Homo sapiens: one gene and its partners. The protein of the gene in region 1 interacts with the protein of each later gene in a biochemical or structural test. Each region holds a gene or a part of one and is shown in the gene's direction. Other genes may lie near its edges. The genes, in order: IGF1R, ARHGEF12, RASA1 and PTPN11.

Region 1 (7,022 bases):
ACAATTCGTCAGAGAGCTCTGGGTCTCCATGAGGGTGGGCAGTCATCAGTCTTTCCCTGGTCCTTATCGTAGTTTGAATTTGGTCCAAGGAATAAGAGAGACACTTGGCACAGCTTCCCTGCCATACCCGCCAGCCAGGCTACTTCCCATAGAGCACGTTAGGCTTGGCCAAGTGAGATCTTCTTGTCAGTGCTTAATCCAGCCTCCCGTTGTTTGTCAGCCCTAGCTGGAGGCCTCACAGGAGTTCCTGTGTCCTTCCAGTTTGATACCAAGTTTAGACCAAGAAAAGTTCCTTTCTGTGGCACACCTGTAGTCTCTTACCTGTCTTTGGTGGTTGTACACGAACAGGCAGATATCCACAACTGCAGAACAAGTGTCATCGTCTCTCTTAAGAAGTTTCAGGGCAGCCTAAAGGCTCACCTTCACCCTACCAGGCCCCCTTTCATAGCCAGGATCTTAGGGATGGAGAAGAAAGATAAGTTCACCTCGTTCACTGAAGTCGCCCCTTGTTTTCAGGTTAGGAAACCCAGGTTCATGTCCAAGTCCCTGGGCAAGTAGCCAGCGTAACTGATTGACCTAAAACAAAGGATGGAGCCCTTGGAGCTCTGCATAGTGAAATGTATGATTTCTTAGTGGAAAACGAGAAAGCCACTGAGGAAGCCCAGAAGGGAACTTAGCATATACAGCCAGCTTTGGGGAAGGGGGAAGCAGTGCCAAGCAAGACAGGTGCTTTTCAGAGACACATGAATCTCTGTCACTCACGGATGTACTCTTTGCCCCAGGTGAAAGTGACGTCCTGCATTTCACCTCCACCACCACGTCGAAGAATCGCATCATCATAACCTGGCACCGGTACCGGCCCCCTGACTACAGGGATCTCATCAGCTTCACCGTTTACTACAAGGAAGCGTGAGTTTCTGCTTTGGGTGATGCCATTCTGTTGACAGGGCTACGAATGGGAGAGGCCAGTCTTTCGATCCTTGAATGGGCTGGCTGAATACAGGGGGTCAGCAGAGTCCCCAGGGAGAGCCACGCCAAACATCCCTACTTCATCCTCATGCACCCTCTCGGGCTGTCCCTGTGATGTCAGTCACAGCCAGTGACAGCCATGATTGGGAAAGTGTTAGCTCGAGGCCTGTCATTCTTTAGTGAGTGATTAGAGGTGTTTGAATAAAATAAACCCAAAATGGGGAAAGCTTGCTTTTTCCAGAATTAGGTCAGTCCAGACTCATGAACGATGATGGGGGACTTCACTGAAATATCGTTTCAGCCTCCTTACCTACTAGGCCTACTCCAGGAACACCCTGCAGGCACGTGGCTCTTTTGTATCATCTTATTCCTGTCTCTCTCTCTGTGTGCCTCTCCCAAGCTGTGGCCCTCTGCTCTAGGTCATGAGCCTTCCAAACAAGCGAAGAAAAGTGGAGAGAGAACAACCTTCATGTCTTGAGCCTTTTGTGACTTCTCCTAGACTCTGTTGGGAGCTTTTCCTGTGTGATCACATGACATTCCCCCATCTAAGCAGCCGAGGCTTATTCCTCCCGACTGCAGCCCTCTTTGATCTCCCTCTTCCTTCCTTTGCCTTCTATATCCAGGTGGCTACCCCGGTCTACTTAGCCATCCCCCTTACCCAGGTCCCATGTTAATCCCATAGTTCTCTCTCCCAGATGTGTGGCTTCCAAAGAGCAGCAACCAGAGGCACCTTATGACAGCATCTTGTACTCTTTCCTCCTGCCAGAGCTGGGGTCCTATGAATGAGAAATTGGGTACTTAGGATTACTAGGCTTTCAGAGTTTGTACACAGGGGAGCCCCTCATGATCTCCCATCCCATGACAGCAGACGGTGTTTTGTTCATGTTTGTTTCAGAAGCCAGCGGCCAGCAGCTGTCCAGCCCTTTTAGCTGATAAATATAAAATACCTACCCAACCATGCATCTGTGCGAAGTACTATATTCTCTGATAGTCACACCAGTGCTTTGGCAATGTCAGCTGGTAATTTCACTGAGGACTTGATGCTGGTTTCTAAGGCAATCTGGAAACTAAATATTTGAATATTATAAGATGCTTAAGCATCAGAATTGTTTATGAGCAATCTGAATTTTAGAAGCTACTTCTGTTTGTCTGTAGGAAAGTCATTTTTCTCCAACAGTTACCTTCTTTCAATATCTGATATTTGCATTAACTGACTATGCTTGTTTTTTTCTTGATGAAAAAATGCTGCAATCAGAAGAGAGAAAAATAGTTTTTGCATATGTTCTTAAGGAATAGTAACTATTGAATCCCAGTAACTGTTGAAGTGGCTCTTCCTGAGGCAGACCATTCAATTCTGTAATGCCCGACTGGGGAAGCCCAGAGTCCAGTCACTTCATTTCTTCTTCTATAAAAGTCTAATTGATTATTTGTTTATTTAGACCTCCCATTATAGAAAGTGTGACATGCTGGGCCTCTGGGGAAGATTTTTGAGGGTTTTGATGTCAGAGCCCCGAACTTTCTCTGAACTTAATTGTCTTTCAGACCCTTTAAGAATGTCACAGAGTATGATGGGCAGGATGCCTGCGGCTCCAACAGCTGGAACATGGTGGACGTGGACCTCCCGCCCAACAAGGACGTGGAGCCCGGCATCTTACTACATGGGCTGAAGCCCTGGACTCAGTACGCCGTTTACGTCAAGGCTGTGACCCTCACCATGGTGGAGAACGACCATATCCGTGGGGCCAAGAGTGAGATCTTGTACATTCGCACCAATGCTTCAGGTATCCATGCCTAGACAAGCCCCCAGCATCCACACTTCTTCGCAAGCTCACTGGCCTTGCTTGTACCAGGTGTCATTGTAGGGTTAGCAGTGAGCTATGCCTGTTGTCTTTCTTGTCAATAGGTAATACTGTGTCATATTCATTTCCCCACTGCTAACACATTAGGCTCTTCTGTGCCATTTTCTGGCCTCGGTACTATCTTCCATCATCTCCTGCTTTGTGCCTGTGAGCCCAGGTCCTCCAGGGTGCTGGGCTGGTTTCATTGGAAGGCCCAGCCTGGAAACAGCCGTCTTCAGCTGCCCTTGTTTCTTGTTTGTTTTGATGTTCAATCCTCCAGGAACTGAAACCATGCTGATCTGTGTTCCACTTAATTCATGTAGCTCACTGGTTTTCCATCTTCATTCTGGAGCTTATAGAGTTCCAAAGAGGTCAACAAAAGTTGAAAGCCTGCAGATGTAGTATGTTGTGGATATTCAGAGTATTCACTGATGATGAGGTTCCTCCTTCCTTTATCTTTAGGTTCTAAACCATCTCATTTCTCAACTCCAGATCTGGAAACAGTAAAAGCAAACGTTAATAGTTTCCAGTATATAAAAACTAGTTTAGAAGTAGGAAAATCCACTTCAGTTTTAAAGACACTGATTGTTTTAGTGTATTGGAGCTTCTATCACAAAAAAACAGTGTAGCCTGGGTGGCTTATAAGCAATAGAAATGTATTTCTCACAGTTCCAGAAGCCACAAAGTGCAAGATCAAGGCGCTGGCAGATTTGGTGTCTGGTGAGGGCCCACTCCCTGGCTCATAGATGGCTGTCTTTTCATTGTGTCCTTGCATGGTGGCAGGGATGCGGGAGCACTCTCCGGGGCCTCTCATAGAAGGGCCTGGATTCCATTCATGAGGGCTTCACTCCCATGACCCAATCACCTCCCAAAGGCCATGCCTCCTAATTCCATCCCCTTAGGGGTTAGGATTTTGACATGTGAGTTTTGGTAGGGGACACAGGCATTCACTCTATAGCACTGATAAACATTCTTTGATAATAGCCATTATTTTAGTGGGTAAGGTGTTTTTAAATACCCATAAGCGAGCACAAAATCAGTTTAAATGGCAGAGAGGAGGGTGAGAAGAAAATGCTGGTGGGGAAAACCTTTTGCTGTGCACGCCTGCTCCTTCCTCCACTCCTACCCCATCTCCATGACCCTGTAAGTGGCCACAGTCATGTCACTGGGTAAAGTGCTTATTGAAACAAAATTGGCACAGGCTTCTGATCCTGCGTGTGGGTTGGTGTAGCAGAGGTTCAGTGCAACAGAAGAAGTTTTTCATCTTAAAATTTGGAAGTAACCCCTGGCCAGCAATTCACTGTAGTGTTTGGGAAACATAGGAATATCTGCTTATTGTGACAGATTCTCAAGAAACCTGTTTCCTTTCCACAAAGATGGAAACCAGGCACTGTACCAATGAGTCAGTTCACTACGTTTTGTCCTCTGTCCTTACACGCAGCGGAGACAGACGAGAACTTGGTCCTCTGCCTCTGCTGTTTGGTGACACCTATCGTAAGAATGTATCTAGGAATGAGCTGTTTGTTTTTGAAGTACTTATTTTTGGAAACCCTAAAGTGGCTGAGCATCAAGTGGTTGTGTTTTCTCTGAAAACGCCAGTATTAGTCATAACCTTTTTCCAAAGTATCATCCCTTAAAGATGTTCAGAACCTTGTGTGTATCGTATAACCTGGAGCACCCTCAAGCTGTCCGCCCTTTTCAAGTTTTAAAAATGGCTTAGGCAAACATATTGCTTAAGTGATATCCAGTGAAGGTGTCTCCTGTGCTTTGAAAAACCATCAACATTGATGCTTTTTTGTGACCCAATAAGGACAAGATTTCAGTGGTTCTGGGATGCATTTGATCTTTATGCACACTTCAGCTCTGGGTTTCAGTTCAGGGGTCAGCATAAGTAAAGCTTGATCAGATAACTATGCTTTGCCTATAATCGGCATTCATTCTGCTGGTGACAGAGTCCTTTGCTCAAAATGAGGCTTCCATGCGTTTGCAGTTCTAAACTGCTTTTCAGAGTCATGCCTCAGTCATTGTACTGAAGGATGCCTGTGGAAATGGTGGACTTCCGTGTTCTTTGCATTGCCTCTCCCCCATCCCTCTTACACACAGCTGTGACATGGGCATGCACACTCCTTCACACACACAGACTCTCCAGGCCCCTTTCCACTTCCTCTTTCCATTTGGCTTCATGACATTTTTATCAGAGATTCAAAATCTCAGATGAAATCCAAGTCAGCCTGTTTTACCAGTTGTCGAAATTGCCGGAGTGCAGCACTGTGGAGAATGGCAGTTGTAATAAATGAGAAATACCAGGTGTTTGAATTAGCTGTAGATTTTCACATTGTCTCTTCTAACCCTGCTTGTGCCCCCGCAGCCTTTTTCCATTTACAACTCAGTAATGTTTGTTTTCACAGAGATTACCGGAGGAAATAGATTATAAAGGGAAATGTTGGCATTTATAGTAGTACTATTTCAAAATAAGGTTCACTTTTCACTTTGTATTTCATTGTTCATTGTTATTTTCTTATCCAGGTCAAACTGGCAGTTTCCTGTTGGCTTGCCAGAGTATCTGATAGCCTGACTCTTAAGTTCATTTCATTTTCTAGAATGTTCTTTGTTCCCCTCTCCAGTTCCTTCCATTCCCTTGGACGTTCTTTCAGCATCGAACTCCTCTTCTCAGTTAATCGTGAAGTGGAACCCTCCCTCTCTGCCCAACGGCAACCTGAGTTACTACATTGTGCGCTGGCAGCGGCAGCCTCAGGACGGCTACCTTTACCGGCACAATTACTGCTCCAAAGGTAAGGGTGCAGCAGCGGCCTGGACGGAGGGTGTGACCGTTCATTCCTGTGGTTGTAATGTGCCTGAGCCCTAATATTACACGTATCAGACAACAGTGTAGTTCTCCATTGGAAACCAGCTATCTTCTGGTTTTTTTTTTTTTTTTTTGAGACAGAGTCTCACTCTGTTGCCCAGGCTGGAGTGCAGTGGCACGATCATGGCTCACTGCAATTTCTGCCTCCCAGGTTCAAGCATTTCTCATTCCCCAGCATTCCGAGTAGCTGGGATTACAGGCATGCACCACCATGCCCAGCTAATTTTTGTATTTTTAGTAGAGACGGGGTTTCACCATGTTGCCCAGGCTGGTCTGAAACTCCTAACCTCAGGTGATTTGCCCGCCTCGGCCTCCCAAAGTGCTGGGATTATAGCCTTGAGCCACCACATCTGGCCGAGACCAGCTATCTTCTTGATTAAAGGTACTGAGAGCTATTATTTTTCCTTACAAGCATGTATAACGGCTTTCATTCCCACTCTTGTTTTGGCTTTTCTTTTCCGAGAAGACAAAATCCCCATCAGGAAGTATGCCGACGGCACCATCGACATTGAGGAGGTCACAGAGAACCCCAAGACTGAGGTGTGTGGTGGGGAGAAAGGGCCTTGCTGCGCCTGCCCCAAAACTGAAGCCGAGAAGCAGGCCGAGAAGGAGGAGGCTGAATACCGCAAAGTCTTTGAGAATTTCCTGCACAACTCCATCTTCGTGCCCAGGTACCCAGCTCATGTGAAATTTCAGTTGGCAAAACCCACTGCTCAGGCCGGTTCTGTTGCCTTTCTCCCCACCAGGTAGTGTGTAAGTCAGCAGCTGGGGGGTACAATACAGTAGCCACTGAGACGGAGCCGAAAAAGATGACAGGTTCGGTGAAGTGAGTCCCTGCGGAAGCCAGTCAGCCCTGAAGGGAACAGGGACCAGGGCTTGGGTTGCTGGGGCCACCGGTGTGACAGGTACTGCTGTCTCAGCCACAACCCCCCACAGAGAGCAGGTGGGCACCCTGTGGTAGAGGCAGGGAGGGGAAACTCAAAGAGTATTGACAGCTGCTGCCTGGTGAGAGGAAAGGCCAGGATTTGGGTCCATCTCTGCCCTTCCTAATTATCTTTACTGCCTCTCTCAGCCTCACAGAGGAGGAGTGAAGCAAGAGGGAAAAAAGTCAGAGTCTGTGCTGGAAAGGGCCTGACTTCAAAACATAGCCAGGTGCCACAGGCATCCTGTACAAGTAAGTTTGGGAAGCAGTGTAGGGCGACAGCCTGCATTGGCTGTTTATTCCGTGGTTACTCTGTCTTTCAAAGCAACACAGCCCCTGCCCCAGGGACTCTGCTCCTCTGCTGTGGTCTTGGTTTCTGGGGAGTGGGGACAAAAGCAGAGGAAAGTAAACGTTCATAGCAGGACTG
Region 2 (7,022 bases), on another chromosome or scaffold:
ATAACTCTATCATTGTCTGGGTGACCTCATAGCATACACTTGGCCCATTCAAAATTAAATTGGTTCTTATTTTCAGTAAATGTATGTATCTCATAAAATTAGAGGAAATAATATGCATATAGTGTCTGGATCTGGAAAAAGCAGAACTTTTTTTTAGCTTTTTCTGTCTAGCTTAACACAGCCTTTCAACATTCTTAAGAAGTACCTTTAGGGTATTATTCTAGTTATATAGAAGAAAAAATAGAGGCATGATATTGGTTATTGAGGAGTTCTAAATAGTAGTATCTCCCTATTCAGAATGCTTAGATCTTTTCAAGTTTAGTTTAACGTTAAATCTTCTCTAAAAGATGGTGCTTTATTTCATCTTCAAAACAAAATGGAAAATGATTGTATGAAGTAAGATGATTGTATGAAATTAATAATTAACATTTTAATATGTCATTAAAAGATACTTTTTAAAGATAGATCATTGGTAAGTCAGCTAATTTAATTCTTGCAGCCTGAGGTTATAGTTGTGAATATGTTTTTTTTCCCCCTCCTTCCTAAATCGTTTAGTGGGTTTGTTGAAGCAGTTGCTGGTGCAACAGCTAGGTTTGACTGAGAAGAGCGTTCAGGAAGACTGGCAACATTTCCCAAGATACAGAACAGCCTCTCAGGGGCCGCAGACAGACAGTGTCATCCAGAACTCTGAAAATATTAAGGCCTATCATTCTGGTGAAGGACATATGCCCTTTAGAACTGGAACTGGTGACATTGCAACTTGTTACAGTCCACGGACTTCAACTGAATCTTTTGCTCCACGGGATTCAGTGGGACTGGCACCCCAGGATAGCCAGGCAAGTAACATTTTAGTAATGGACCACATGATTATGACCCCAGAGATGCCTACCATGGAGCCAGAAGGGGGTCTTGATGACAGTGGAGAGCACTTTTTTGATGCCCGTGAAGCACATAGTGATGAGAATCCATCAGAAGGTGATGGAGCAGTTAACAAGGAAGAGAAGGATGTTAATTTACGCATCTCAGGCAAGTATCTTTCACACTTAAACTTTGATTTTGATTTTGATCATTGTTAACTGTCCTGTATTTTGAAATGGATGTTGTATTGGTATCCAGGTGTGTGTGTGTGTGTGTGTTCACACATGTGCAATATTTATTCCTTCATTTGATAAATACTGAATCTACTCTGTACCAGACCTCATCATAGGTGCTGGGAGATATAGCAGTGAATAAAACACAGAAAAATCCCATCTTCTCATGAAGCTAGGGGAAAGAAGGATGGTAAATAAGTAAACAAATAAATAGACTTCAGGAAGTATTAGGAAGAAACATAAGTCAGACTGAGGGGACGGAGAGTAATGAAGGCAAACAGGGTGATCAGGGATTAGGACCTCCGATGAGGTAGCATTTGAGCAGAGACCTCAATGAAATGAGGGAATAAAGCCGGGTGGGTACCTGGGAGCTTACTATTCCAGCAGAGAGCAGAGTGGGGCAGAGGCTTTGTGTCAAAGAGCAAGCTTTTTGTGGTGATCGAACACTGGATGAGGGAGACAATGGCAGGAGATGGGGCAAGAGAGGCGTTTGGCAGGGGAAGTGGTAGCAAGATCATTTAGGCACTGTAGTTTCCAGCTTTAAACTTTTGAAATGAAATTTTTTGGAAATTACCATGAAAGTTTGCAGAGTTTAGCTTTCATCTGAAGTGAGGAAATTCTGATGTACCTGAAACTAAACTCAGGAATTAATGGCTTTTCCCTCTCTTAATAACTTTTCAAGTTGAAGTTGTCAGCACACTATGCTATTTCTGTTTTCTAATGGCAGCACTGGTCTTATCAAACTATTCTGTCTCTATCCATAGGAAACTATTTGATCCTTGATGGCTATGACCCAGTGCAGGAGAGTTCCACAGATGAGGAGGTTGCTTCCTCACTTACCCTGCAGCCCATGACAGGCATCCCTGCTGTGGAATCCACCCACCAGCAGCAACATTCTCCTCAGAATACTCACTCCGATGGGGCAATTTCACCATTCACCCCCGAATTTCTGGTCCAGCAGCGCTGGGGAGCTATGGAGTATTCCTGTTTTGAGATCCAGAGTCCCTCCTCTTGTGCAGATTCACAGAGCCAGATCATGGAGTACATTCATAAGATAGAGGCTGACCTTGAACACTTAAAGGTACCTCATACTTCCACATCCATAGGACTTGGTTGTAAGAAACATTTAGCAGAGGGGAAGAATAGGGTGATGAAAATGCTGATGTCAATAAACTTGTTCAGGTTCTAGATTTCTTTGACTATTATCCATGAATAGGCCTGGGTAAAAAGTTGAGATTGGCATTGTTTATCTTTTTCTTTCTTTCTTTTTTTTTTTTTTTTTGAGACGGAGTCTCGCTCTGTCAACCAGGCTAGAGTGCAGTGGCGTGATCTCAGCTCACTGCAAGCTCTGCCTTCCAGGTTCACACCATTCTCCTGCCTCAGCCTCCCAAGCAGCTGGGACTACAGGCACCCGCCCCCACGCCCAGCTAATTTTTTGTATTTTTAATAGAGACGGGGTTTCACCATGTTAGCCAGGATGGTCTCGATCTCCTGACCTCGTGATCCGCCTGCCTCGGCCTCCCAAAGTACTGGGATTACAGGCGTGAGCCACCGCGCCCAGTCGGCATTGTTTATCTTTTGACTATCACAAGAGCAGAAAAAGTTGCAGCTCTGTGAACTGTGTGTTTGTATGGGTGTCTAAGTTTAAGAACCTGAAATGCTTCGGGTAGTTGGCTGGCCTCTGTCAGACATGAACAAGAAGATGAGATAGGTAGGGTTTATGTAGTTATGAATCTAGGCTGAGAAATGCTATGACTTTCTGTAGCCTATTATCTGTGACTCATTAGGTGACATTGGCAGCTTCCCAAATCCTATGACAGATAGAAATTGGCTTCAGTGGCTCCTGTAATCTAAAAACATGGTCATGCATGGGATTTTTGTAGATTGGTAATTGAAGATGTCACTATTGCAAAACTGACTTGTGTGGCAATTTCCAAGAGAAAGACCTATCTTAAAGTTTTCCATCAGAGGCAGGGCACGGTGGCTCACGCCTGTAATTCCAGCACTTTGGGAGGCAAGGCAGGCGGATCACGAGGTCAGGAGATCGAGACCATCCTTGCTAACACGGTGAAACCCCGTCTCTACTAAAAATAAAAAAAATCAGCCAGGTGTGGTGGTGGGCGCCTGTAGTCCCAGCTACTCAGGAGGCTGAGGCAGGAGAATGGCATGAACCTGGGAGGCGGAGCTTGCAGGGAGCTGAGATCACGCCACTGCACTCCAACCTGGGTGACAGAGCGAGACTCTGTCTCAAAAAAAAAAAAAAAAGTTTGCCATCAGAAAACACAGCTTCCAGAGCCCAAACATTTTCCTCATGACATCATTTACACCAGAGACTTGAGGGGTAGATTTAAGTATCCTTAGCCTTTGAGTTAAAGACTGGTCTCCCTTAGTTTCTCTTTTACCTTCATATAATTGATTTTTCCCTCTTCATGTTACTTATTTTATGTAGTATCATTCTGTAGCTGATGAGATATCGACAAGCCCATTGAGGACAGGTCGGTTCTTATATACAGTCATGTGTTGCTTAGCAATGGGGATATATTCTGAGAAATTCATCATTAGGCATTTTTATCTTTGTGTGAACTTCACAGAGTGTACTTACACAAACCTAGATAGAATATATCTTTATTTACATAGATTTTTTCATATGGAAAGCCAAATCTCTCAACACTATTACTGAATATTAGTCATTTCCCCTACCTGATCAGCAATGCCATTATTAAGTGCCACACACCAGGTTTCTACATGTGCTCCATAATAATCTTTTTTTTTTTTTTTTTTTTTTGAGACAGTCTTGCTCTGTCACCCAGGCTGGAGTGCAGTGGCGCTATTTCGGCTCACTGCAACCTCTGCCTCCCAGGTTCAAGCGATTCTCCTGCCTTGGCCTCCCAAGGAGCTGGGACTACAGGCACCACCACCATGCCCAGATAAATTTTTTTTTTTTTTTAAATGGAGTCTCGGTCTGTCACCCAGGCTGGAGTGCAATGGTGCAATCTCGGCTCACCGCAACCTCCGCCTCCCGGGTTCAAGCGATTCTCCTGCCTCAGCTTCCTGAGTAGCTGGGATTACAGGTGCCCGCCACCACACCCAGCTAATTTTTTTCTATCTTTTAATTTATTTATGTATTTATATTTTTTGAGACAGAGTCTTGCTCTGTCGCCCAGGCTGGAGTGCAGTGGCATGATCTCTCCTCACTGCAAGCTCCACCTCCCAGGTTCACGCCATTCTCCTGCCTCAGCCTCCCCAGTAGCTGGGACTACAGGCGCCTGCCACCATGCCCGGCTAATTTTTTTTATTTTTAGTAGAGACGGGGTTTCACCATGTTAGCCTGGATGGTCTCGATCTCCTGACCTCGTGATCCGCCTGCCTCGGCCTCCCAAAGTGTTGGGATTACAGGCGTGAGCCACCGCGCCCAGTCCCAGCTAATTTTTATAATTTTAGTAGAGACAGGATTTCACCATGTTGGCCAGGCTGGTCTGGAACTCCTGACCTCAGGTGATCCACCTGCCTCGGCCTCCCAAAGTGCTGGGATTACAGGCGTGAGCCACCATGCCCCACCCATAATAATCTTAAGGGACCATCATCATGTATGCAGGCCGCCATGTCTTTATGTGCTGCATGACTATAGCTCATGCACATGATGACGGGACCATGTCCAGGGTGACTCCTGGGGGTGGGAGAATTGCATCTATGGTTACCACCTCTACTTTCTTTTTACATGGGAAAATACTAAGTTATTCCTTCAGTGGAGAAATTGGTAAAAGGAATGAAATTTACTTTTTTCTTCCCACTAATGAAATTTTTAATGATGAAGTTAATATTTTTGAAATTTGGGGGCTTGTACCTGTAATGTAAAAAGGGCTTCTTTTCTGTTTTCTGAAGTTTTTGTTTTGTTTTGTTTCATTACGTTTGAATAAAAAACCTATGGGTTTTATTTCACAGAAGGTGGAGGAAAGTTACACCATTCTTTGCCAAAGGCTGGCTGGATCAGCCCTCACAGACAAGCACTCAGGTATGTAAAAGTTATGAGTTCCAGACTCTAGACTAATCATCCTACACTGAATGAAATGACTTATCATACTTTGAAGTGAAAACCTTCTGAGATTCCATTTCTCTTCTGTCTTTAAAGAACTGCCTGTTTCTAAACATCAGATATCAAGCGGAAGCTCATGCCTGCTGACTCTACTCTTCTCTAAGAGGAACTGCAGTTGTCAGTTCCCATACCATCCCCTCTTCTCTCTCTTTTCACCTTTTCAAAGCAGAAGGCAGAGCAGTGGGAAGCCTGGTAAATCACAGATTCGGTGTGAGGCTTACTGGTACTGCTGTGACTCCCTAGTGTGGAGGATTTGGCCTTATTGGATGTTGGTGCACTTGCCTCTGCTGACAGTGTGGCTGGTGTCTCCCCTGACTGCAGATGGATTTGTGTTCCCTGCAGCAGTTTATACTCATCTGCTTACATACTGATTCAGAAACAAAGATTGAACCACGCCCACAGATGTCATGGGTATTCTTTGCAATGTTAGTATATTCTTTTTCTTAATATCATTTCCATGTATCTTTATTCTTCTCAGATAAAAGTTAGAGCCGCATGTCCTGGAGGTGACTGCAGGTTGTTGGATTTGGAGTATCGGCCGTGTCTCACCACATCCTGGCTCCAGTGTGGATGCAGAGAGAGTGTGACAGAGGATCTGCCTGTGAACCACCTGGGATTAGTCAAGTCCCAAGGTGCCCAGAGTGGGACTAGTTCTTCACAGTGTGGCAGCTGCACTAATCTGTTTGTGAGGGAATATCCATTCCCTCACTCTACTCTCCTCACTATCGGAAATTCATTTTGATTCAGAATAAAAACCAAATGTATAGAGCTTTGGGTGTAGGATATGAAATTGTACTTAGATTTAAGAAAAAGAGAAAATCAGATGTATTTATTTGACTTCATTCCGTATTTGAAAGCACATTTTAATTTTTATTTGCCTTGTTTTGTTTTAATTGAGTAGTGAGAGTTTTAGACCTTTGTCTTTAGTACACCCAAGGATCAACTGCTCCTGAAGCAAAGAGGTCAGGATGGAGTATGCAGAAGTTGGGTAGAGAGGTTAAGAAGAGGAGGAAGTGAGACGGGGAAGGGAGGAGCACCTTGCTTCACTATACAGTATTCCAAGCTCTCTGCTGTCCAGTAGGCTGCTTCTCTGAGGGTCACCTCAAAGGTATGCTATGCCGTGTGGCTCTTATGTGCCCAGGTGGTGTGGTCAGAGAGTGGATGGGCTTCCTCCCGCCCTGAGGCAAGCACCTCTTCTCTGTAGCTGGGATCAACCACAATTAATAGGAATCCTCAACATACTAAATAGCAGGCACTTGAAAATGGGTGTGTTTTCTTCCATTGTCGTCTTTTCTATTGAGGGTTGGGATTTGGGTGGGAGAGGAAAGCAAATTTTATTTTCTTGACTATAAATTTGTTATTCTTGGTATCATTTCATTTTTATAATTATACATTAGACATTGGCACTTGTGTAAAACTGTCCCTGCAGATTGAGCAGGAAGTAAAAACAAATGGAAATGCTTCGGATAGTGGCAGGGGTGGGGGTTGCTAAGGAAAGGGTGGGATGGGAGTGGGTAAAGAGTTTGGGAAGGTTATCTAACTGAATCACTACTGAGTTGAATCATGGCTATCATTAGCCACAGGTACTGCTGATTATAAGGCCAGTAAAATTTTAGTACCTGGAGGTTTGACTCTAATTTTTGCACTGATGGTGCCAAAGGGCCCTGAGTCAAAAGGATAGCCAAGGGTGGAGTGGAAAAAGATATGGTGAAGGCAGAACTGCTCACACCAGCTCCAGAAGCACGTCCTCTGACTTCACTGCCGCAGCTCTTTCCACACGGGGCCGTGATTGACCCTAAAAATTGCAGACCAGCACATACACTGGACACTGCAGGCAA
Region 3 (7,936 bases), on another chromosome or scaffold:
TCTGGAACTCCAGGGCTCAAGTGATCCTCCTGCCTTGGCCTCCCAAAGTACTGGGATTATAGTCTTGAGCCACCATGCCTGGCCTTCAATGCCAATTTTTAATGCATCCATGGAAAAAGATAAAATAAGAACATAATATATGATGAATATTTCATGAAGCTAAATTTATGTAATTCTAAGGACTTTTCCTTTTTTTTCTAAAATTATTTCCATCCTTTCTCTTTCCTCCTTCCCTCTTTCTCCCTGCTTTGAAATGTCCTTTCCTTTTATGAAATAAAGCAGCAGGAAATGGCAGTTTTGTTGTAATAACAAAATACTTCTCTCTTCACAACATTGGCAAACTCATAATTGGCAATTCTGTAGTCTCTCAATTTTTGTGGAAACTTTAGTAGTCTATGAAACCCAGAAGTCTGAACATCACTGATACATACCATTATATTTACATGTCATATTTCATTGCTTTTTAAAAACTATTCGATAAACAGTGAATAGGAAGTTGAAAAATAAGAGTTCTAGTAAGATAACAAGTGAAGTTGAAAAGTCTTCAAAAGAGCACGCGGATTGAGAAATAATTATAGTTAGAAATAGAAAGCTGTTTTTAGTTGAGTAAAGTTACACTACTTACAGTGCATTTGCAGTAGTTAAAGCTCTCACCTTATTTATGATAATTATCTGACTCAAGGCTCCACTTAGCCCTTTCATTGTATAGTTACTTTAAAGAGCGGTGTGTATTGCCATACTAACTGAATTTGCAAGTGAAAGCATTCCTGGAAGACTCTCAGGTAGACCAAAGAATGTAACTTGAATTAGAGACTGCAGGATTCTTGAGGTGAAAAGACCAAAGCTTAGTTGGATTTCATGACTGTGCTTCAGGTGCTATTTAAATTGTTGCTGGCATATTCAAAAAATATTATCTGTGAAAAATGGGAGTGTAATAATGAGGGAAATATGGCAAAGTCCTACCCACCCGACTCTCCCACATTCTTTGCCTTGAAACCATTCCGTTCCCTTTTCTCCTTTACTTCTACCATGAGGTACTATCATATATAGGAGCCAGGCAAAGAAAGGAAAATACATAAATGTGCCTGGTCAGAGTAAAATAATAGGTAAAGAAAAAGAGACTAGAAATCATGAAGGAGGAAAGGTTCTGACAAAAAATAATGAAGTATCTGCAATATAAAGACAAAATAGGAATAAAGTAAAAAAAAAAAATATATTTTTCTATTATTTTATATTTTAAGAGATATTTAGATCTAACTGTTCTAATCTTCTTTACTCATATATTGGTTTGAATGTTTTGAGAGAGCTCTGGATAATTTACCTTGTAATTTATTTTACAGCCTCAGAGATCATCACACAGTTCTTCAATTTCTCTATGGTATTTATAATTTTCATAAATCTTAGTTATTATACCACATATTGTAATCTCTGCAGAGTTATTTGCCTTTTCATCAAAGTATTTCCTTTAACCTGTATCTCCTCGATGTTATTTTCTCATAAGATCTTTGTAATAAAAAAATTTGTGCTCTGGAGGGTTTTAAGATAAAGTCAATAAATGCAGTGGGGACATTAGGGTTAGAAGTAAAGGCTTTCTTTCAAAATTATTGGGTCAATGAAACCTTTTGATACTATTTAGGTAAATTTGGAAGGCTATTTGTGTAACTCAATATGTACTAGGGCATGGAACACAATTTGGCATTCTTCAAACACAGCAGTAAGCTCTTTATTACTTCTTGGTTAGTCCTCCCATCAGAAACTATTCTTACCTATGCTCTAAGGTCCTCTAAAATTACAGTTATGTTACTGAGTTAGAATTACCTTTCCACATACTCAAGATATCAAAACTATAAAATATTTTGGAACGTAGTACATTCATATTTCTTTTTCTTTTTTTTTTTTTTGAGACAGAGTCTTGCTCTGTCACCCAGGCTGGAGTGTTAGCCAGGATTGTCTCGATCTCCTGACCTTGTGATCTGCCCGCCTCGGCCTTCCAAAGTGCTAGGATTACAGGCGTGAGCCACCGCACCCGGCCACATTCATATTTCAGTTGCCAATGAAACCAGAATGAGCCAACTTCATTTCTTAAATTTTCAGTTTCTTTTCATACACAAGTTTTTGTCCAGCACTTTTTATTATTTAGTCTTCATTAAATACTATGTTTCAAGATCCAGAGTAACTTTTCTAAAATCACAGATATAATAGCTTATTTTACTAAAGGTAAAATATATTTTGAATTTTCTTTCTTTTGTGTACTATTCTGTTTTTCAATACCTCCCTGTTTAATATCTGTGAATTTAATTAAGATAGTTTACTTCCCTTTGTTAACTGGGCAGAAAGTTAAGGTGGGTAGAAAAGAAAGGCAATGGACAAAAATTAAGTAGAAACATTAAATCCTTTTGGAAAAAATGAAAATAAAGATAGACAACGTATTTGAGATTCAGAAAGTACACAAGCAATAGTAAAGATTAGAGCCTAGATCTATCCAATAATAGGAATATATTAAATATCTGAAAATACCTCATAAAAATATGTGGCAATTTCTTTGGAGGAAAAGAACAGGGCTAACTCTAAGGCTAAACAAAAACTAGGTAAGATATTGGTATAAGGCTGATTTACAAATAGACATAGTAGTTATTTCCTACTGGTTAAGAAATTGATTTCCAAAGATGGGAGCTGATCAAATTTGGTATTTGTTAAAAGGATGAAGATCTGTTCAAAGTAGCATACTGAGGTTGCCTAGGACTGGGCTAGGCAGTAGAATAGACCACAGGTTGTATTTGCAGTACAGTTTTGTAGGTACATACACCTAAAAGTCTAGAAAACATTTAATTGAGCATTTGATAGGTGTTAGACTGCATTAAATATTGACCTTTACAAGTGCTAAAGAATTGTCAAAAAGGAGGAGGTAATTCTGCAGTAAGAGTAGTGAGCCTCACCTGGACTCCCAGGCAACATACAGAGGGTGTGTGAACATTTAGAAATCAGTGATAACCAAGAGCCGGTGATAACCTGCCAGTTCAATGTCCTGCATTCAAGGGCTGACAGTGGTGACTGGGACAGGAATGTTGGAGGATTGGGATGCTAACACACTGGAGGTTTTCAAGCACAGGCTATATTAAGATTTGTTGGGATTGTTGCACTTGGTGTTCACACAGCAGACAGTAAGTAGAGTAGGTATTTTGATAGTCTTGTCTAACTGAGGGTCTAAGTTTAAAAGAAAACTGTTCTCAGGGAGGCCACCATAAGTAGTACTTCATTATTAAGTATTATGGAACTACTTCATTCTCATTTCTAGAACAGCACAGAGCTTGGCAACTCAAAACCCGCCTATTTTACCTACCCACCTAATGAATGACATTTATTATTTCTTTCAGAACCGTTTTTAGGTATTGCATACCTCCTTCTTGATTAGTATACTATACATTAATATAGTGGTTCTCAAACTTAAGTGTGCAAACAATCACTTGGAGGGTTTGTTAAAATGGATCGCTGCATATTTTCTGATTCAGAAGGTCTGAGGTGGCATTTCTGAATTCCTAGGATGTTGCGGCCTGAATTCACTTTGAGAACTCTAGCTCCTGTGACTGGTCCATCTTCCTTCTCCCAGGTAGCACACTGCTAAGAGATATGCGTAATGGAGGCCCCAGGACTACTCCTAATCAAGTTGGATTGTTGTCATTGACTAGGTAAATAGGCCTGTGCAAACTTACAAAGGCAATGCATTGCCTGTATCTTGTCACGTCTTTTAGTGGTCTTTTCTCTTTTTCCTGGGTTTCTATCACAGCCACTTGCCATCCTGAGTGTTAGTTTGATCATCCTTAGCACAGAAAATATTGATCTCAAAGATCAATATCCAATGGTATTTAATGTGGGATCACTCCTGGGAGAATTTAACAATATTGTTAATTTCAAACCATGGGAAGCTCCCTCTACATGAATGCATAGTTTGTATACATTTTAGTGTAAAAGACAAAATAACACCCTTCTCCTTAATTGTATTAAAAATGAGTTTTCAGTTTATTGCTACTTTTGAAACGATATATAATTATAACTAGCATTCTGGGACATTCTTGACATTTGACTTGTTGAAGGTGCTTGCATTGTGGATCACGTCCTGCAGTCTTTTGCACACAAACCAGGACAAAAGTGCATTGATTAGTGTTTTCTGTGGCACCTCCTCCTCTTCATCAGTATCCAACAGACTTATAATGGCATAGGTAAGTATATGAGACAGTTGATAAAGAAAAACGTATGCAAATACTGGTAGAAATCTTACTTCATAACCACTATTTCTACTCAAATTCTTCACCCTTCTCATATGGTGCCCTTTATTTCGTTTTGGAGTTTCAGAATCTATTTTAACTGTGTGTGTGTGAGATAGTCATAGTGATTTATAGCATGCAACGAAAAAGAAAACATTAATAGTACTGCCCCGATCTTCAAAGCTACCTGACCCCTGCCCGGTTTCTGCGCTGCTGGTTAAGGCTGTTTTTTCCACTGGTCAGGAAGTACGGAACTAGTTTCTGGGCATTTTCCTTTCCCTTTCCCCCTCCTTCCTCTCCACCGCCTCCTGGTCCCCCTCTGGTCTCTCCGGCTTTAACAGCGCCAAGCACCCGCGTGCTCAGGTACCCTTCCCTCTTCTCCCGCCCATCAAACAAAGCCCCGGGAGACAGGCGCGCGCCGCCGGCCACGCCAACAGGAGATGCGGCCGCGCCGCCACACGCTTGGAACCGGAGGAGGACAGCAAGCGCGACCACGCACCGCGCGTCCCCGCCGCTTCCTTCCCTCTGGACTCTTCCTTTTCCTCCCGGCCCGGCCCCCCGCCCCCGCTCCGGGAACGCGCCTGCGCACAAGCTGCCCTCTCCCTTCTCCGCCCTTCCTTCCCTCCGTCCCTCCTCCCCTGCCCCGCCTTCCTTTCTCTCTCTCCCGTTTCACTCACTGAGAGCTCCAGGTAGTGAGCAGTTCAGTCGATTTCCTCGTTACCCCGCCCCCCTTTCTCTTGCCCCCCCACCCCTCTCATCTGCCTGGTGGAGGATGAAGCGGCTGCAGTGGCCCCAGCCTCAGCAGCGGCACCGGCGGTGGCTGCGGTGTGGGTGGCCGGAACTGGGGTGGTGAAGAAGCGGTGGTGGCGGCTGAAGGAGCGGTAGCAGCCTCAGCCTCTTTCCCTGTGCTTCCTTTCCTCTTTAGTGCAGCGAGGAAGTTTTCGCTTCTGTACATGTGTTTGTGTGCGTGAGTGTGGGTGTGTGCGGTGAGGTTTGGGTGGCGTTTGTGCAGGCGTTGGGTTTTTTGCCCACTTGGCTTCCCGTAACCCAGGCAGCTGGGGAGCCTGGGCTGTGGCCCTAGGAGGGGGCGCGGCGGCGGGCTCTCTCCTTTTGTTGTTGTTTCCTCAGCCTGGGGAGCTGAAGGGGAGACGCGTCTGGGTGGGGCTGCTCGGAGCCCGGGCCTGGTGGCCCCTGGGGCTCCCGGGCGGGCAGGGTAGGGCAGAGTAGAGCGGGCTTCAACATGATGGCGGCCGAGGCCGGCAGTGAGGAGGGCGGCCCGGTAACAGCCGGAGCTGGAGGAGGCGGCGCGGCAGCGGGCTCCAGTGCCTATCCCGCAGTGTGTCGGGTGAAGATACCCGCGGCCCTGCCTGTGGCAGCCGCCCCCTATCCTGGGCTGGTGGAGACCGGAGTGGCTGGAACTCTGGGTGGCGGAGCCGCTTTGGGGTCAGAGTTCCTAGGAGCCGGGTCTGTGGCAGGGGCACTGGGGGGAGCTGGACTGACAGGGGGAGGTACTGCTGCTGGCGTAGCTGGTGCTGCTGCTGGCGTGGCCGGTGCTGCTGTTGCTGGACCTAGTGGAGACATGGCTCTCACCAAACTGCCCACTTCGTTGCTTGCTGAGACTCTCGGGCCAGGCGGCGGTTTTCCCCCTCTGCCCCCTCCCCCTTACCTGCCCCCTTTGGGGGCGGGCCTCGGGACAGTGGACGAAGGTGACTCTCTGGATGGACCAGAATACGAGGAGGAAGAGGTGGCCATACCGTTGACCGCTCCTCCAACTAACCAGTAAGTTAAGACTGCTGTTCAGGAATTTGGGAAGCTGGCTCCAGAAAAGAAGTGGAAATGAAGGGGTAAATCATACTTTGTCCTTTTCATCTGTGGTTTGTTAGGAAAAGTTTTTGAAGTTTCAGGTTTCTTGGGTAGGAATTTAATCTGATCACTTATCTTCCTTACAGGCATACTACCTGGCGTCTTCCTACATTTATTGCTCCTCTGGGAAAGTGTAAAGTCTTTAAGATGGAAAGCATGAGAAAATGTGTATCTAATGAGAACCGGATATAGTTCTGTCCCTTCCAAGTTGAGGTGGTGTCCCAGAATTTAGTCAAACTGCGGCTACCAAGGCAGTCATAGTGTATATTAACTTGTGTGTGTTACTTGATAAAGCTAGATGATTAGTGAGAAGCTTTGAATACAGGTGTTTAAACGAGTACTATAGTAATAATTTGAAAAATGTATTGGTTAGAATGTTTTTATTTCAGTGCACAGCCCAGCTTCTGATTAGAGAAAGCATAGTGATGCAGAAGAGTCTTTGGGTCACTTAATGAGAACTTGGGTCAGAGAGAAAGGAAAGGAATCCTGTGTATTATAGGTGTGATTAAGAGCCTATATTCCAACAATGTATCTTCTTCCATAGGCTTGCCACTTAATATTAACGCACTGCTTTTATAGTGGAGACTTTGGAAGTACAACAGTGAGGCAAAACAAAATCAATAGAGCTTCCCTTAAACATTTTTTGTTGGTGGCCAGTATAGTATTCTATTTAAAAATTAAGTTTTACAGTCTGTAAAATATACAGGACAATGACTTTTTTAAAATGTAAGTTAATACCTCCTCCTCACTTGTCTTAATTGAACTTAGGTGTTTATTCTTAAAGGTGGACCTTGATGAAAATGTTGAGATGGGAAGTGTTATTAGGCAAAACTTGTTATAGATTTCTCATATAACCCTTAATTGACCCTTAGAATTTTAACAACCGGCCGGGCGCAGTGGCTCACACCTGTAATCCCAGCACTTTGAGAGGCTGAGGTGGGCGGATCACCTGAGGTCAGGAGTTCGAGACCAACCTGGCCAACCTGGTGAAACCCTGTCTCTACTAAAAATACAAAAATAAGCCGGACGCGGTGGCACGCGCCTATAATCCTAGCTACTTGGGAGGCTGAGGCAGAAGAATCGCTTGAACCCAGGAGGCGGAGGTTGCAGTGAGCCGAGATCGTGCCGCTGCACTCCAGCCTGGGTGACAGAGCGAGACTCTGTCTCAAAAAAAAAAAAAAAAGAATTTTGACAACTTTGTTGAATATCAAGAAAAAAAGATTTGGTTCATATGTTGACAGTCACTCTGGACAATTCAGAGGTTTTTTTTTTTTTCCTTCCCCCCACCCCAGAGATGGAGTCTCGCCTTGTTGCCCAGGCTGGAGTGCAGTGGCGTGATCTCGGCTCACTGCAACCTCCGCCTCCCGGGTTCAAGAGATTCTCCTGCTTCAGCCTCTCTAGTAGCTGGGATTACAGGCGCATGCCACCATGTCTGGCTAATTTTTGTATTTTTAATAGAGACGAAATTTCGCCATATGGCCAAACTGATGTCGAACTCCTGACCTCAGGTGATCCGCCGGCCTCAGCCTCCCAAAGTGGTGGGATTACAGCCGTAAGCCACGGTGCCCGGCCTTTTTTTTTTTTTTTTTTTTTTTTTTTTTTTTTTTTTGGATAAGCTTCTTTGGAGCATTTAGAAAGTTCTGAAACTAATTAGGAAAAGATTCTGTTACCCTAATCCATTTTTGACTTAAGGCTACATCTTTTGATACTTAAAGGGGAAAAGTAAAGTTAGTCATATTTATGCCAGCCAACGGGATGTAGTATTCCACTTTTTATATTCCTCAATAAAGGATTCAAGTCTTTCGTCAGAG
Region 4 (7,022 bases), on another chromosome or scaffold:
AAAGAGAAAAGTGTCCTTTTACATCCCTTTTAAAAATGTCACTTAAGGCTGGGCAAAGTGGCTCATGCCTGTAATCCCTGCACTTTGGGAGGCTGAAGTGGGTGGATTACTTGAGGTCAGGAGTACAAGACCAGCCTGGCCAACATGGCGAAACTCCTTCTCTACTAAAATTAGCTGGATGTGGTACATGCCTGTAGTCCCAGCTACTCGGGAGTCGAGTCTGAGGCCCAAGAATTGCTTGAATCGGGGAGGCGTAGGTTGCAGTGAGCTGTGATCAGGTCACTGTGCACCAGCCTGGATGACAGAGTGAGACTCTGTCTCAAAAAAAAAAGTCACTTAGCTTAGATTGTCTCTACATATATAGGAAGAAGATGTAGGAATGAATGGTGCTGCTACAATTACGTCATCTGGATAGACCCAGAAACATGATACTTTTTGGTTTTCTGTAGCCTTGGTGCCATTGTTGATCTTTATTAATTATCATTATCCTCAAAATAGCCATAATGTGCTGAGTCTCTTCCTATTTGCTGGGCAGAGGCTGAGTATTTCAGCGAGCTCACTGAGTCCTTAAAATTGCATTATGATAGAGAGAAAGAGATTATTATTTGCATTTTGCAAAATGAAGAAATTGAGGTTTAGAGATACCCAAGGGCCACGTGAGTGTGAGTGCCTGGAATTGGAGCCTAAATCTAGTCATCTGATAGCAAAGCCTGTTTTCTTATCTGCTTTGCATTAAATATAAGTTTAAAATAGAACAATACTGGCCAGGCTGGGTGGCTCACGCCTGTAATCCCAGCACTTTGGGAGGTCGAGGCAGGCAGATCACCTGAGGTCAGGAGTTTGCAACCAGCCTGGCCAATATGGCGAAAGAAACCCCATCGCTACTAAAAATACAAAAATTAGCCAGGCATGGTGATGTGTGCCTGTAATCCCAGCTACTTGGGAGGCTGAGGCAGGAGAATGGCTTGAACCCGGGAGGCAGAGGTTGCAGTGAGCCAAGATCACGCCACTGCACTCCAGCCTGGGCAACAGAGTAAGACTCTGTCTTGGAAAAAAAAAAAAAAAAGAATGATACTATAGTCTGTGTTTATATGGTGGGGAAGGTTGAGTATCAAAAAAATAACAAAGAGGAATGAATGTCTTAAGTGAATGCCTGTTTCCCCATCTGCTTCCTCTTCTGCTGGGAGGAGAGACCTGGATCCCTAGAGGTTTCAGTTGCCTCCAGAGCTGAGTGCCACAGGGATGCAGGGGAATAGGGATGTTACCTGTCGCTGGTAATTCAGAGAGATGATTCAGGGTATAGTTACCTGAAAGAACAAATTGCCATGCCAGACGTCTTGGTTCTTATGACAGAGGCAAAGAGTTGCCTCCAGGATTGCCCAAAAGGAGACGAGTTCTGGGAACCTCACGAAGAGGACCTTTCAGTGGAACCTGGGGAGATTCTCTTCCTCTCCATTGGATTTAGGAAAGCTTAGAACCGGGTGATTCCTCAACCTCTTGATTTATTTAATTCTTTTCTGGTTTTTCTTGGCTCTACTCCAGGGGAATACGGAGAGAACGGTCTGGCAATACCACTTTCGGACCTGGCCGGACCACGGCGTGCCCAGCGACCCTGGGGGCGTGCTGGACTTCCTGGAGGAGGTGCACCATAAGCAGGAGAGCATCATGGATGCAGGGCCGGTCGTGGTGCACTGCAGGTGACAGCTCCTGCTGCCCCTCTAGGCCACAGCCTGTCCCTGTCTCCTAGCGCCCAGGGCTTGCTTTTACCTACCCACTCCTAGCTCTTTAACTGTAGGAAGAATTTAATATCTGTTTGAGGCATAGAGCAACTGCATTGAGGGACATTTTGATCCCAAGGCATATTTCTCCTAGACCCTACAGCACTGCCATTGGCCATGGCCATGGCAACATGCTCAGTTAAAACAGCAAAGACTAAGTCAGCATTATCTCTGAGTCCACCAGAAGTTGTGCATTAAACAACTTCATCCTGGCTCTGCAGTTTCTCCTTATTCTTCATGATGTTTGCTTTGTAGCTGTTGACTGCTTTGTAGGTATTGAGGTGGTGGGGGTGTGGTGGAAATAGGCCTGACTCTTGAGGATCCCTTAAGTCATTTTTGCTTGGTTCTCTTTTTCCTTCTTTTCTTCTACTCTTCTATGATTCATCTCTTTGATTGTGATTCTGTTCTCTCTCTCTCTCTCTCTTTTTTTTTTTTCGTTTTTGAGACAGAGTCTTGTTTTGTTGCCCAGGCTAGAGTGCAGTGGTGCCATCTTGGCTCACTGCAACCTCCGCCTCCCGGGTTCAGGCCATTCTCCTGCCTCAGCCTCCCAAGTAGCTGGGATTACAGGCATCTGACACTACGCCCGGCTAATTTTTGTATTTTAATAGAGACAAGGTTTTGTCATGTTGGCCAGGCTGGTCTCGAACCCTTGACCTCAGGTGATCCACCTGCCTTGTCCTTCCAAAGTGCTGGGATTACAGGTATGAGCTACCATGCCCGGCCCATTCTGTTCTCTTCTACCATAAATATATTTCTCCCCTAACACTATATTTGTTTGCTTCACAAGATTCCAGCTGCTTTTCCACCAAGGCCTTTGATGGAAGCTGTGCTGTGACCTCTGTAATGAGTCTGTGGGCTGCTGATTCTCCAGTTTGGGCTTCATGATTATACTGGGGAATATTGGGTTTCCTAAATCTCATTCATTTCTTGGGCAAGTAGATATATGTGAAAGTGTTTATTTGTCCAGTTGTTAAAGAAGCTACCATTTATTGAGCCAGCCTCTGAGCACAATGTTTTTTGTTTTGTTTTGTTTTTAATTTTTAAAATTATTTACTTCTTCTATTTCAATAACTTTATTATTATTATTTTTTGAGACAGAGTCTCACTCTGTCACCCAGGCTAGAGTGCAATTGAGCGATCTTAGCTCACTGCAACCTCTGCTTTCTGGGTTCAAGCAATTCTCATGTCTCAGCCTCCCGAGTAGCTGGGATTACTGGTACGTGACAACATGCCTGGCTAATTTTTGTGTTTTTAGTAGAGACGAGGTTTTGCTATGTTGGCCAGGCTGGTCTGGAACTCCTGGCCCCAAGTGATCCTCCTGCCTCGGCCTCCCAAAGTGCTGGTATTATAGGTGAGAGCCACTGCGCCCGGCCCTCTTTCAGTAATTTTGATGTATTTTTTTGTATATGATTCCTGTTTCATTCTGTCCAACCAGCACTCTGTATGGTATGTGCTGTTGTCCCCATTTCACAGATGCAGAAATTAAGGGTCAGAGAGGTTAAGGGACTTACCTCAGGCACGTTGTACTGGAGAAGCTGAACTCCAAGAGCAGGTTTGGGCTGACTCCAAAGCCCTATGCTTTTTGCCAACATATTTTCAAACATAAATAGACAATTTTATAAATAGCTCCAAAGAGTAGACATTGTTTCTGTTGATATTAATGGCTTGGTTTTGAGTCTGAAACCCCCATGAATGATTCTGTTGTCCCTGCTTTTTGTCCTTCTGCCCGCAGTGCTGGAATTGGCCGGACAGGGACGTTCATTGTGATTGATATTCTTATTGACATCATCAGAGAGAAAGGTGGGTCATCTGGTGGGCAAGAAGCGACAGTTTCTGTTTTTAGTTTATGGAAGGAAAGTGCTCACGAAAACAGTCTGGGGAAGAGAGGTTGAATGGGAAAATTCTTTCACAAAAATCTGGGCTGAAGACTTCAGTGTGTCTGCCTGAGAACAGAAGTGACACTATTTGAGCTTTTGGCATAAAATGAAGTCTAGGAGCTGCAGAACCCACTGCCATGGCCTTTTGTTGCATACACAGTGGTGGTCTCTATCCAGCCACCTGACCTTGTTTACAGTATGGGGTGATTTGTTGGCAAGTGAGGGAATCCTGACTTCTGCCACTTCGTTATTTATGTAGTCTTCTGGGATCATTGGTATTGGTCAGAAGTTCAACACTGTAGCCATTGCAACATGCTCAGTTAAAACAGCAAAGACTAAATTAGCATTGTCTCTGAGTCCACTAAAAGTTGTGCATTAAACAACTTCATCCTGGCTCTGCAGTTTCTCTTTATTCTTCATGATGTTTCCTTCGTAGGTGTTGACTGCGATATTGACGTTCCCAAAACCATCCAGATGGTGCGGTCTCAGAGGTCAGGGATGGTCCAGACAGAAGCACAGTACCGATTTATCTATATGGCGGTCCAGCATTATATTGAAACACTACAGCGCAGGATTGAAGAAGAGCAGGTACCAGCCTGAGGGCTGGCATGCGGATTCTCATTCTCTTGCTAGGCCTCTTGGATACGCTCTCCTTTTGAGCAGGAGGACAGGCTCTGATAGACAACTGTTTGATTTCGGAATGGGAAACAAACTCCCAACTAAAAGGGCCTCTGGAAACTGTCAATTATTCTCCACTTCTCAGCTCTGATTTTTCACTGCAGAGGAGCTTAGGGAAGGGCACCATCCTATCAGCCTGGCCTGCCAGATTGAAGAACTGCCATGCAGAAAGGTTCTGATGTTCTCAGGCTCATGTGGCAAGCGTAAAACTCAAAGCCTTGAAGTTTCTAGCCTGTTCCAGCCTTGATCCAGGCCATGTTTATCCTGATTCCATCCTTTAAAACGAATGCCTCACTCTTAATAGCGCACGGCAGTTTGAACCACTAATTTGGTCGAGTTGGAAACAGTGAAATTTCAATTTTAATAAGCTGTGCATAATGAAGAGGAATGTGGAATTGGAGCCTTTCCATCTGAAGCTATTCATAACAGGCACAAAGCTGAGTTAATTAGGAATATGCTGAGATGAAGGAAATGAGGAGAGCTGCTCTTTTGGGGGCTGTGCTTCTCTCCCCAACCCCTCAACCCCATTGCCATGCTGCAGATGGGGTGGTGTCTAAACATCAGTGGCGAGTGCCTGCATTACTCTGCTCGTTGCCTTCCAGAGAACTCAGCTTCTCCAAATGCTGAGCTCTTTTCAGAATGGGACCTGCCACCAGTATTTGAAAGATTTCTAGCCTAGCAGAACAGCAGCCACGTTATCAAAGTTTGGTTGGCCAAAGGAAGGTACTTGCTAATTAGTTTAGTAGGTTTTCAGTCCGCACAGACATACGGGATTGTTTTATTGTACATAGACATCTTCAGAAACAGTGTATGTATAGAAATGTAAGGTCAAAATTTGAACCTCAGTGCTTTAAATCTGAATTTGTATTAACTGATATGAAATATTTAGACGGTTACTTTATTTTATATCTGTCTTCCATTATACTTAATTTGGCTCAAGAATAGTTAGGCAAAAAGTTGCCCAAAGAGAAGGATCTCCTAGTAAATACAAAGAGAATGTAACATAGTTGCTACAAGTTGGAGCATGTTCAGGGATGTCTTTTTTTTTTTTTTTTTTTGAGAGAGAGGTCTCTCTCTGTTGCCCAGGCTGGAGTGCAGTGGTGTAATCATGGCTCACTGCAGCCTCAATCTCCCAGGCTTAAGCGATCCTCCCACCTCAGCCTCCCAAGTAGCTGGGACTATAGGCATGCGCCACCACACCTAGCTAATTTTCGCATTTTTTGTAGTGTCACAGTTTCGCCATGTTGCCCAGGCTAGTCTCGAATTCCTAGGCTCAAGCAGTGCTTCTGCCTCAGCCTCTCTGAGTAGTTAGGACTACAAATTTGTGGCTCCATGCCCGGCTAATTTTTTTATCTTTATTTTGTAGAGACAAGGTCTCACTGTGTTGCCCAGGCTAGTCTTGAACTCCTGGGCTCAAACAACCCTCCCACTTTGGGTTTCCAAAGTGCTGGGATTACAAGTGTGAGCCACTGAGCCCAGTGACCTCTGGGTTTTAAAAATGTGTAGGCTTCAATTATTTATTTTAAAAAATGAAATCCTGCAATATATAGTTTTCTGCGTTGTGTGGTTTGAATCAATCTGGGAACTGGCTTGCTGGCTGATTGTGGTAAAGTAAGAAGTACTTAATTTAGTAGAAAGTTTAAATGGCAGACATAACATTAAACCCAGCTGATTTATAAATGAAGCAAAAGAACAAAACTCATTCAGGATAATTGGTTATTCTAAAATACAGTCATTTCTAAAATTATGAAGTGTTCAGGACCTTTGGGAGTGAAAGAATTTGCTAAAGAAGGATCAGTGAAAAAAAGGAATGATGGGTGAAGAGCTGTGGAGAAGGAAGAGAAGAAACAGCACAAGGAAGGAAGAATATAAAATCAGATGTGGGAATCCAGGGGAAAGTGCAAACGAAGCAAGATTGAGAAAATTCTCAAGTTTTTATAAACAGTTCTCACACTCTGCCAGTTCCTTGGAGGTAGACTTTTTTGTTAACTTCCAACTACAGTAGTGAAAAAAAAAAAAAAACCCTCAAATTTGCAAAAGCAGTCTGTGGAATTTTCTTTACCCAGCTTTCCTGACTGTTAACTTTTTAGCACACTTAACTTTATCATTCGTTTATTCTCTCTGTTTAAAATTAAAAATGTAAATTTTAAAAAGTAAAATGTTTGTTGGTTACAAACATTTATACCCCTTTGTCTCTAAATATCATTTCATTTTAAAAAATGAATAATCTAAGCCTACACATTCTAAAATGTGTATATTTTCTAAAAATAAGGGCATTCTCTTACATAACCAATGTCACAATTATTTGATACAGTGATCAAAATCAGGAAACTAACATTGATATAACACTATTATCTAACCTACAGACCATCTTCAAATTTTGTCCTGCTAGTATCTTTTATGGGTCCAGGGTCACACAGTGCATTTGGCTATAATGTATCTTTTTTCTCTTTTTTTGAGACAGGGTCTCACTTTGTTGCCCAGGTTGGAGTGCAGTGGTGCAATTATGGCTCACGGCAGCCTTGACCTCCTTGGGCTCAGGTGATCCTCCCACCTCAGCCTCTCGAGTAGCTGGAGACCACAGGTGTGCACCACCATGCCTGGCTAAGTTTTGTATTTTTTGTAGAGATGGAGCTTCGCCGTGTTGCCCCGGCTGGCCTTGAACTCCTGGGCTCAAGTGACCCTCCCG

What was found.
Region 2: the proteins of IGF1R (region 1) and ARHGEF12 form a complex in vitro, tested with the Homo sapiens proteins (2 studies listed by BioGRID and IntAct, with this or other methods).
Region 3: the proteins of IGF1R (region 1) and RASA1 form a complex in vitro, tested with the Homo sapiens proteins (one study listed by BioGRID).
Region 4: the proteins of IGF1R (region 1) and PTPN11 form a complex in vitro, tested with the Homo sapiens proteins (one study listed by BioGRID).

What each region holds. Positions count from the first base shown.
Region 1 is NC_000015.10:98,910,533-98,917,554, forward strand, and holds part of IGF1R (insulin-like growth factor 1 receptor isoform 1 precursor), read left to right. Parts: intron 1-782; coding exon 783-909; intron 910-2,511; coding exon 2,512-2,750; intron 2,751-5,431; coding exon 5,432-5,599; intron 5,600-6,139; coding exon 6,140-6,344; intron 6,345-7,022. UniProt on the Homo sapiens protein: Receptor tyrosine kinase which mediates actions of insulin-like growth factor 1 (IGF1). Binds IGF1 with high affinity and IGF2 and insulin (INS) with a lower affinity. The activated IGF1R is involved in cell growth and survival control.
Region 2 is NC_000011.10:120,479,405-120,486,426, forward strand, and holds part of ARHGEF12 (rho guanine nucleotide exchange factor 12), read left to right. Parts: intron 1-555; coding exon 556-1,026; intron 1,027-1,855; coding exon 1,856-2,172; intron 2,173-5,033; coding exon 5,034-5,103; intron 5,104-5,662; coding exon 5,663-5,673; 3' UTR 5,674-7,022. UniProt on the Homo sapiens protein: May play a role in the regulation of RhoA GTPase by guanine nucleotide-binding alpha-12 (GNA12) and alpha-13 (GNA13). Acts as guanine nucleotide exchange factor (GEF) for RhoA GTPase and may act as GTPase-activating protein (GAP) for GNA12 and GNA13.
Region 3 is NC_000005.10:87,262,950-87,270,885, forward strand, and holds the start of RASA1 (ras GTPase-activating protein 1), read left to right. Parts: upstream 1-4,933; 5' UTR 4,934-5,502; coding exon 5,503-6,041; exon of another isoform or gene 6,042-6,098; coding exon of another isoform or gene 6,099-6,106; intron 6,107-7,936. UniProt on the Homo sapiens protein: Inhibitory regulator of the Ras-cyclic AMP pathway. Stimulates the GTPase of normal but not oncogenic Ras p21; this stimulation may be further increased in the presence of NCK1.
Region 4 is NC_000012.12:112,484,933-112,491,954, forward strand, and holds part of PTPN11 (tyrosine-protein phosphatase non-receptor type 11), read left to right. Parts: intron 1-1,530; coding exon of another isoform or gene 1,531-1,542; coding exon 1,543-1,697; coding exon of another isoform or gene 1,698-1,701; exon of another isoform or gene 1,702-1,991; intron 1,992-3,510; coding exon 3,511-3,578; intron 3,579-4,091; coding exon 4,092-4,243; intron 4,244-4,251; exon of another isoform or gene 4,252-5,056; intron 5,057-6,085; exon of another isoform or gene 6,086-6,492; intron 6,493-7,022. UniProt on the Homo sapiens protein: Acts downstream of various receptor and cytoplasmic protein tyrosine kinases to participate in the signal transduction from the cell surface to the nucleus. Positively regulates MAPK signal transduction pathway. Dephosphorylates GAB1, ARHGAP35 and EGFR.